2 linked regions of the Homo sapiens genome follow. The protein of the gene in region 2 interacts with the protein of the main gene of each other region in a pairwise test. Each region holds a gene or a part of one and is shown on either strand. Other genes may lie near its edges.

Region 1 (7,310 bases), on a different chromosome or scaffold from region 2:
ATTCTAAATAGAATATAAATAGATGATAGACATTATTACTTGCATTAGTTAACTCAAACCCAACTATCACCCTAAAGCCTTAAAATACATTTATAAGAAGCAAAATAAAGAGGCAAGAGAAATAGCAATATAAAAGCCTGAGACTCTTTTGCCATAATCTAGACAAGACTCAATAGATGACCAATAGTGACCATGATGATACGTGCAAACGGAAAGAAAGGAATAAATGCTGCTTGAGTATGGCAATTGATTGGATGTATGGAATAAGTGGTATGGAATACATGATATGGATGATATCATGTCCCTTAATAATATGACTTCAGGAGTAGAGATGTAATCGAAATTGGAAGGAAGGCAAAAATAACCCTTGGGAGAGGCCATGGATTTAATGTGGGACATAATCAGTTTAACCTGCTGATGGGATATCATAGAGGAAGTATCAAGTGACAATTAGAAATAAGGAACAATTTTGACAGAGACACCAAGGCTAAAGATAGAAATTTAAGGACCGTATTTGAGGAATGAAATTGAAATTATAAGAACGTCAAAAGAGAGACCAAAAAGAAGATGGTTTAGAGCCGTGGCATCCATTAGAAATATAATATGAGCCACACACATGTAGTTTAAAAATTTCCTGTAGCCACATTGGAAAAGTTAAATGAGATAAGTGAAATTAATTTTAATAATTTTATTTAACCCAATACTTCGAAATATAATCAATGGAGCATGATTAAATGCCAAAATATTAATTATTTTACATTTTCGTTATTTGTACTATGTCTTCAAAATCTGGTGTTTATTTTACACTTAATTCATACTAGCCCTTCTTCAAGTGCTCAATAGTCACTTGTGCTAGTTGCTACCGTATTGGATAGGTGGATCTAAGAAGGAATTTTTGAGAATTAAGAGCCAGGGGGAGACATAGAATCCAGAGGAGACCAGAAAAAGAGAAAGAGGAAAGACACCTGCAGTATGGCAAAAACCAAGGCAAAAGAACGTTTTCTTCCTCACAAGTTTTACAACACTTCTGCATAGGCAATATTTGCAGAGAAGAAACAACAGGTTTCCTACAGATGGCATTGCTTTAGACATCAAACAAAGTAGGATTCTTTTAGAGCCTTTTAGACTCTAGGGCCTCATGAATAAAGTTCAGCATTGCTTAACTGCTAACACTTAACAGGCTTCAAAATTATCGCATGGCATACTGAAAATAACATGGACTTTGCATTACCCAGATCTATGTACAACTCATGACCCAGCCTACCGAGAAGCTTTGTAAATTTGCATATTTAATCTCTTAACCTTAGCTTCCTTATCTTTAAAATGGGGATACAAATTCCTTTACATGATTTTTGTGGATACCAAATGCAATTATGCATGCAAAATTCTTGTCCCATAATCTACACAGAGTAAGTCATAGCTATGATGATAATTATTAAGAATCTCACTCTAATAATTTATATTGATGAATTTCTCAAGCAACTGTAAACATCTTGAGAATAAGTTAATATTGTCTAGTTTTGGTAACAACTATAGTACTTACCACAGTGCTTGAGACACCACTGAGGTAATCACCATACATTTTTTCCTTTAATGTTCTACTTTAGGAGAACCATCAAAGTATGAATAGGTGATATTATACAGAAGCTCAGATTACTTGATTTCCCCAGTGCATTTAGCAGAGAGCTGAATTTGGGTTCCATTGCTCAGTTTCTAGTCTTTAAAATTCTAACATGAAATTAACTAAAGCAGAAAGATAAATGAACAGAAACGGAAGTTTCCCTTGACTCAGCATCCAATTTCCTGAGCATTCTACCTTCCATAGCTCTTTTAAAGAGATGTTCTGTTTTGACTCTTTTAGGAAATGGATTTAAAGTGAACATAAAATTAGTCAATTTTAATACCATGGTTTTAGTAAAATTGCTTAAAATTTAAATACTTAGAGGTAGTTGCTCTTTCTCATCAGTTTATGGCAATATGTTTTCAGCTGGTGGGTTATTTGTTCCATTTTTCAGAAGCATATAATGGATACAGAATTCAAACCCAACCTTTCATCACTGCCAACTTACTAAAACTGTACCATATATATAGTACATATAGTGTCTTTTATTTGAAATATATTTCTAGCTTCTCTTCTCCTAAATTACCCTATATTTTAGACCAGGAAAATTCACACATCTCCAGATTGTCTTCCTTGATTCTACAGCCCAAAGTCAATCTTTATGGCATTTATCCTTTCACTAAACAAATATTTATTGATATTATCATACACCTACCATTTGTTCTAGGTTCTAGGTATTTAGCAGTAAAAAGACAGGCGAGGTCAATACTCCCATGGACCACACATTCTAAGGTGAAAATAGCCACTAAACACTGAAAAATAAATAATAAATTCCATAGCCAAACTAATATGAAGGAAAACAAAAGCAGAGTAATGAGATAACGAGGTCCTTGCAAATCATGAAAGGAGATTGAATCTAATTTGAAGTATAATAGTCATTTGGAATATTATATTAAAAGAGTTTGCATGGTTGAACTCTTAAAATGGCCACTCTGTCTACTCCTTGGACAATGACTATTGTGGGGAAGATAGAAGCAGGGAGGAGAGTCAGGAGAATTCTGCAATAACAGCAGTGGAAGTGGAAAGAAGTGATTGAATTCAAGATATTCTGATGTACCTATACCTCTTGCTTAATATCTAATTCATTCCCGTGAAATACAAAGTTATTCAATAAGAGCCTAAGATTTCCAATCATCACTTATAAGTATAAAAGTATATCAATAGAACCTCAAAAAAGGATTCAAGTACATAATAGCAACAATTTGAAAGAAGACAAATTGTAAACAAAATGTAATATAAAAGGAGTTTTTATTTATTACATTTTCTCTTTCCATATCTTTTTCTTCAGTAATATTTTTAAGGATTGGGAGACTTAACGGTTTTCATGCCCTCAAAGTATACTTAATAACAAATTACAGCACAGGAGTCACCTGGAGCCGGGGGCCCAACAAAAAGTCTGACTAAAAGGTTGTAAACATTGCCACCTCTTCAACCTTCTTGAATTAATTCAAACATGTACAAATCAACATTGTTTCATATGCTTCTTGTTATTCTAACTTGAAAGCAGAGAGTAAATTGGTGTGTGTGTTTTATCTAAAGTTTGATGTTCATCCAAGTGTCATGTTGTGCTGTATTCACTTGGCAAGATTTTTTTAGAAAAGTCATTGTATTGACAACCAAAAAAATAAAAAATAAAAGAAGTATTAGACTGAAAAAAAAAAGATATAACACCTTAAGGGCCATTATTGAGAAAAGTCACGTGAACAGTATAATGAAAAGTAAGTTTATATTTTACAGGCTCTACTTATTGCTGATAAACTAGATGAAACTTTGGGTAGGAAGTAGTAGGGAAAGAGTAGAATCAAGGATAATTCTTAGACTCTTGTCCTGAAAAGAGAGATTAATATGGTGTCATTAACTAAGGTGGAGGCAAAAAGGAAAGAAGCAGGCTGGGTTGGGGGACAGGTGGGCAGTAATTAGGAGATTTGCTTTGAGTACTGTATACTCACTTTGATGTCTCTATGAGACACTCAAGTGGAGATGATGAATGGGCAATTGGATTTATAGTTTTACTGCTAAGAGAAAAGATTTGGTCTTGAAATATAATTAGTATATAGATAACATTTAAGGTCATGAAACTAAATAAAACCGCAAAGGAATAAACCTAGAAGACAAGTAGAAATCCAAAGACTGATCTCAGGACATTCCAACATTTAGAGAGCTAGATGATGAGAAAGTGTTAGCAAAGGATACAGAAAGAGCATTCAGGTAGTTTGGAGGAAAACTGGAAGAAAAAAGTATTCCAGAAGTCAAATGAAAAGAGAGTTTCAAGAGGGAAGGAGGGTTCGATAGCATCAAATGCAGCTCAGACAGTGAATAATATAAAGATACATAAATGGCTATTAGATTTGGCAAAATGAAGACCTTTGGGATTCTGTCAATGGTATATTCTATAATATTTCTATGGCACTGGACTTATATGTATAATTGATATTTAGATACTTATCTTTGTGTACCTCTTACCTACTAAACAGTTTTCATTGGCTAAGTAGCATATCTATTTCTTTGTATCTCCAGCAATCCTTAGGACAACATAGTATACTTAGAGTTCAAAATTATTTATGGAGTTGAATGGAATTGGACTAATAACCAGCAAAAGATAAAAAATAAGTTGCAAAATCCACAATTGTATTGTGTGTTACTGACAAGGATAAGTTTTAAAATAAGATATTCTGTCTAGTTTTTGACATGCAGAAAATGCTTTCATCAGATGAACTTTCCCACCATTTAGGCAAAGATAGAAACTATGAAGCATGTATTCCCTCAAATTCCTCTCCTCACTGAATCTTACTTATATCCAATTCATCTGCATTCACGCTCATTAAAGTGCTCTCTCTTCTGTTTAAGGTTAATTCATCTACTTGAGCCAGTGATTATACCCATCTGTCTTAGTCTCCTCTGAGACCTTGTTGGGTTCCTTTATTTTCATTCCTTTTCTCCTCCTTCACTTGAACATTCATATTTTATCCCCCTTTTAAGCTACTGTCTATTTCAAGCTTTAGAAAAGGAATACAGCATTTAGGCTGGGCGCGCTCTCACGCCTGTAATCCCAGCACTTTGGGAGGTCAAGGTGGGCAGATCACGAGGTCAGGAGATCGACACCATCCTGGCTAACACCGTGAAACCCCGACTCTACTAAAAATACAAAAAAAAATTAGCTGGGCTTGGTGGCAGGCACCTGTAGTCCCAGCTACTCAGGAGGCTGAGGCAGGAGACTGGCATGAACCCGGGAGGCCGAGCTTGCAGTGAGCCGAGATTGCACCACTGCACTCCAGCTTGGGTGACAGAGTGAGACTCCGTCTCAAAAAAAAAAAAAAAAAAAAGAAAAGGAATACAGCATTTCATATATGCTATCTCTAGTTCTTTGCTTCCTTTGACATCTCACTCCAAGGCTTGAGTGTCACTAAAGTCACTAATGTTTTGGTCTTTAGTTATACAGCTGAGAAAGAATACATTTTCTTACAAGGAAAGCAAATCGACCTTTAATCTTTTAAAAAGAAGATCAATTTTAACCATAATAGCAGAAATATCAATAAAACTGTGTTGAGATGCAGTTGTTAGAGACTGGCAAAACCTGCAAAGCTTGGCAACACAATCCCTTGAAAAAGCAATGAAGCTTCTGCAAGCATTCTCATTAAGTGCTGGTGGAAGTTCAAAAAGTTACAAATAACATGAAGGATAGTTTGGCAACAACTATCAAAATTATTTTATCCTTTGTCTCATAAATGTTATTTCTGGAAATGTGTGATAGATAGATAGGTAGATAGATAGATGATAGATAGATAGATGATAGATAGATAGGTAGATAGATAGATAGATAGATAGATAGATAGATAGATAGATAGATAGATTTTCAAATAGAAACAATTACATGGACATTCATTGAATTAGAAAAACTTGAAAACATCCATCACTCTTTTTACAGGAGGCTGGTTAAATTAAGTATGATATTTCCATATAGTGGAATAGTATACAGCTGTAAAAAAGAGAATTAGTTCCTTAGTTTTGTTATAAAATATCTCTAATCTATATTTCTAAAAGAAAAAAAGCAAAGTGGAGAGGTGCGTGCAGTTATGTTATATACATACACACATAGATGTGCATATATATATGGTTTTTACATAAACTGTGAAGTATAAATATATATATTAAACATGAAAAGTGGTTACGTTGGATTAAGATGGGGATAAATGGGATAGATAGAAATAAAAATATAAGAAATAGCTTATCTAAAAACATTGTGTTTTGGTTTTATATTGATTTTGAACCATCTCACTATATCATCTATTCTTAAATTAAAAGCAAACAAAACAAACAAAAGGCCTTCATCAAATGAAAAAAAAGATTGTTATAACCATAACTTGAATAAGAACCTCAGGCACCTGAACAGGTAAGTCAGTGCCTGTCCTTACAGAAATATCTCCACTGACTTCAAACTCTTCTGCAAAGAAAATGTCACTTCACAGTGAGATAAATGGAAGAAACAAATACATCCTGACCCTAGACAGACAACCCATCAAGATGTAAAAGTGTGGACATCCAATTACGTATCTCCCCTGCTCAAAAACCCTGCTGTTACTTATATCCAGGTCTACTCTATTTATGATCTCACACTATCTTTCTGGCCTACCTCTTATTACTATACTTCTGTCTAACAAAACTGGAGAATTCACACTACTTTGGAATTCTCTGACACGCCGTGTTTTTGTGCCTTGACATATTTCCTTCCTGTCCCTTGCAATGTTTCTCATCTTCCCAGTGCTAGATTTCCCTGAAAACTACCACAAAACTTTCCTCCAAAACTGTCCAGAACTCCCTGAAAGTATGTGATCAGATGATACAACACTTACAAAATTCTCTAGTTTATGGCTCGGCAAATAACAGGAATGCAAAAATGCTGGATGAATTTCTGAACTCTAATAGAGCATTCTCTGTATCTTCTTATGGTACTTGACAAATTGTATTTGCATCATAATTATTAAAATAATAGTCACTCTGGATTATAAGCTTTTAGAAGGCAAATGTTGTGAGGAGTTGTCAAACATACAGTAGCTGTTGAAAAATATTTTAAAATTTAGTTTAATTCAAACTCATGTTTCAATCAGATCCGCCTTTCAATTAAAACTGTATTTTTGTACAATTATGGAATTTGAAGAAGTTGGGAAATAATGACTGTTTAAAATGTGACCATACGTGACTCCGTAGTAGAATTTTGAGGCTTTTGTCCTTTCTTCTGGGGAAAGCATTTTAATTTCTACATCAGGAGACCCCTCTTTTTAGCAGAGAGCCCAAGTGCTGCAGCTGTAGCTGCCCCCAGTGCAGGAGTGGGCCTGTGAGCTAGGCATGGTCACGCATGCTGTCTGCACCCAAGTTCAGTAATTGTTCAGCTATGGTCATGTGATCCAATTCAGTCCCATCAGATCTAAATCTGACACTTTGCTGTGGTGACTGGGGAAAAGCATTCTTTCCCCACAGTTTGCTGAAAGGATCAACTCAGTAGGAGCTTGACAATTTCGTGAGAGCTTCCACTAGAGACTGCTTACAGCATAGTGAAAAGAAGAGCTGAGGAATGAAAAAAATGAGACCTACTCCTGATAATCCTGTGTGAGCTCCTGGATCCAGCCATTCCTGACTTTGCTATCCTTAGACTTTTCACACATAAAAGAATATCTCTTTTGCCTAGGCTAGT
Region 2 (3,400 bases):
TTCTTCTTAAGTCCTGTGCCTTTGCCACAGCCTTTTGCACAATCTTAAAAGCAGGCTGACTCAGAATTGACCACCATCTGCTGTTCCTGACTTGGAATCACCATGAGATTTGTGCAGCCAAACAACCAGCGATCTGATCTGCCTGTCCAATTAGTTAAATAAACTGAAAGGGCTTTGCTGACAAAGTAGTGATAAATGCTCCAATGATAATTATAGAACAGTGTTTTCACATCGCATCCATTGGACATGTTTAATTCTGCGCCAGGCATCACCCATGTAATTTACAAGATGCAGAGAATTAAAGAGTGATGAGGGGGCCATGGATGAGTGGACTCAGCTGCCATGGACACTGGGCGCAGTGCAGCCCAGCCCTCTGTATTCCATGTCCCCAAGGGCAGCACGCTGAGGGGCAGGGTACACATTTGCTGAGGTAATGAAGGAAGGCAGAGCCCAGCGCCCCCTGTCGCCTCCAGCAGGTGCAGGTGCAGAAACTCAGCCACAAGGTACCTTCTTTTTAGCAACTCTTTGAAAGGGGAGATGGATAAATGTAATGACCTTGAAAGCAAGTTCTGCCAGGTATTTCGAGTTGTCGTGAAATATATTAAAACAAGTTCACAATCAATGTGTTTAAGAGTTTATTAGGATAGGCACATAACAGAAAGCTCAAAGGACAACAAAGCTGCACCTTCCTAAAGGCTGACCCTCAAAGCACCATTTTGTTAGAACTCAGAGGAGAAGCTCGATCTCTGAGCCTTCCCTCCTCACAGTTTGGGAAACATGCACAGGATGAAGGTAAATCCTGCATAGAAATCTTGTAATTCCAGAATTAGTCAAACAAATTTGAAATACACACATTTAAAAATACTTACATTCTCATTTAGCATTCATGAAGTGATTACTGACATTTACAATTACATCTGACATCACAGAGCAAGCCTTTGCAGGGATCTAATTCAAGCTTAAGCCAAATCTATGCAAAGAACTTCAGCTCAGAGGAATAGTGGGCAAAATCTGCTGAAAAGAACTGCTTGCCACCTTGCAGATAAGAGCAACAGCACAATAAAGGGATTCCAGAGCTTCTACCTAAAATAGAAGGGCATTATCTACAAGAACAGACCAAAACACAATTTATTTTTAAACAAGCCCTTCAGTGAGTATTTGTCTCAGGAATCTAGTATGAAAATAGTGTCTTTGATTAGTGAATATATGGAGAATTCGGATTATCATCTCTATTTTTAGTTGAGAAAATGCACAAACCATATAGATTTAAACCATGGGTTTTGCAGCCGAAGTAGAGACAGATGTTTTCTGGGATCATATCTCAGATTCCCAAGCTAAAGCTATTGTTCAAGGTGATGGAAATATGTAGGGGGCATTAAACCATTTTGCAGCTGCTAGAAAGCTGTGTTTTCCTGTTTTCCTGATTTAGACAATGGAGAAGCTAAGAAGAGAAATAATAGGAAAGGCTTTCCTATGTTAGTTTTAAAAAGACTGTGTTATTTTTAATTCAATTTTTTTTTGTCAAATCTCATCTCTGTTCTCCTAGTTTTCACAGAAATATTTACAGGAATAAAGGTTGAAACAAAAGTACCTAATGATCATCTCCATCCATCGAAAGATTGCTCAGGGATAAGACACTCAAACAAGGGCTTGTGATGAGGATGGAAAAGACAAAGCAACTTGAAGAGAAAAAAAAATTCTTTTAAACTCAGTTCATCCTGCAAAATGGACATAACACATGCATATAAAGGTTTGACTTTTTAATTCCACTTTTTTGCCTGATCGCAGGGAAGATGGCATGTGGCTGGCCCTTCCTGAAGCCTTGCTCCTCCACCACTGGCTAACAGACAGGCCTCCAGGTGGCCTTGCAAGGCCGACAGTGACCGCAGCCCACTTCCCCACATCCTTAATCAGAGCCTCATGCAGTTCATCCCCACATTACCCAAACATAACGTCGTAGTGCTACACGTAGATGTGTTGCATCATGATGCTATGGCAATGACGATGACGCTTAGGTGTGTGGGCCACCGAAGGCAGAGACCAGATGTGGTTGGTCTTGCCTGGAAGCCAAGCTGTTGAGCAGGGGTGGAGTCCCTCTACAGAGGATGCTCACCAAGTTCTAATGCATTGTCGATAACTGTCCTGCCCTGGTTTTTCTGCATTCCTCAGATTATCTGTGGGAATTGTCCTCCTGCATCCTTTCTCAAATGACAAAGAAGAAAGAAAGAGCAGTGATGGCACCTGAAATTCAGGAATGAGTAGGCATGGCGAGCTGGGTGTGTGAGATGTTCTCTCTTTACATTGTCTGCTTTGAGATGTGGGATGAGGGGAGGGAGAGAGTTGGTCCTGAATATATTCAGTTTTTTCCAAGAGTCTCCCAGAATTATTGACCTATTTGGACAACAAATCTTCATTGTCTTGGTGTCCATCTCCAAGTGAAAACTTCCCCCGTCCCCATGGCCCTGGCTTGTTCTGCTGCTGAACAGGTCACCTGGGCAGAAACACTGTGTCTAGCGAGAAGTTAGCAGGTGGCAGGGTGCACCTCTCCCCATACTGTGACCCTTGGATTCCCCACTGTGCCACGCCCGAGCAAGCTGGGGCCCCTCAGGACAAGGACGATTTGTTAATGGCCTCTTGGCCGGTGGGCATTTGTTTACCCACTACTGTAGCCCCAAGATCCCCCAAACAAGAATTTCCATGCTTCAAAGTAACAGCAAAAATAAACAGGAGAATAAAGCACGTGTTTGAGCCCAGTGGTTTCCATCAGATGCACAACCTGAGCTGTCTGGTTGGGTTGCTGGCTCTCCCCCCGTGGTGGGAGTGGTGTGCAAGAGAAAGCACCACCCAGCAGGAGAGGGACCCAGCCTGCCAGGGAAGGTTTTGAGGAACTGGATTCTTTATCACCCATTTCTCCCCTTGTGGGTTCCACAGAGGGGTTCCATGACCTCCCTGTTGTTGAGAACAGGGCTGCATTCAGAGAACAGACGATGGGCCTGGGCTGTGAGAGCAATCAGAACACTGTGAAAATAGGAGGGCTCGTTGGATCCCAGGAATCATACACAGACTGCGTTGGGGCTGTGGGAAGCCAAGGACAGAAATGTCTCCTTCACCCCAAATGATAAGGGCAAGGATTTTCAAGGCCCAGAGGGAGAAATGTTGCATTTGCATTTATTTAAGTGCTGATGTTGGTCAGCAGCGCATCCAGCCATGTCTTTAGAATCCTCTGAATGGCCAGACAGATGGCTGCTCTCCACACCACAGACTGCCCAGCTTCACACATCACCTAGAGTCTCGTGGCCAAGGAAGTTTTGCCAAATGGACACAGCCTTTGTCTCCCTTAAGTGTTAAACACCAGAGTTCCAACTGAAAACTGGAGACCATGAGATGACTTTAAAAAGAA

The links.
Region 1: the proteins of CD93 (region 2) and ARHGAP15 interact in a two-hybrid assay, tested with the Homo sapiens proteins (one study listed by BioGRID).

What each region holds. Positions count from the first base shown.
Region 1 is NC_000002.12:143,132,267-143,139,576, reverse strand, and holds part of ARHGAP15 (rho GTPase-activating protein 15), read right to left. Parts: intron 1-7,310. UniProt on the Homo sapiens protein: GTPase activator for the Rho-type GTPases by converting them to an inactive GDP-bound state. Has activity toward RAC1. Overexpression results in an increase in actin stress fibers and cell contraction.
Region 2 is NC_000020.11:23,078,738-23,082,137, forward strand, and holds the end of CD93 (complement component C1q receptor precursor), read right to left. Parts: 3' UTR 623-3,400; downstream 1-622. UniProt on the Homo sapiens protein: Cell surface receptor that plays a role in various physiological processes including inflammation, phagocytosis, and cell adhesion.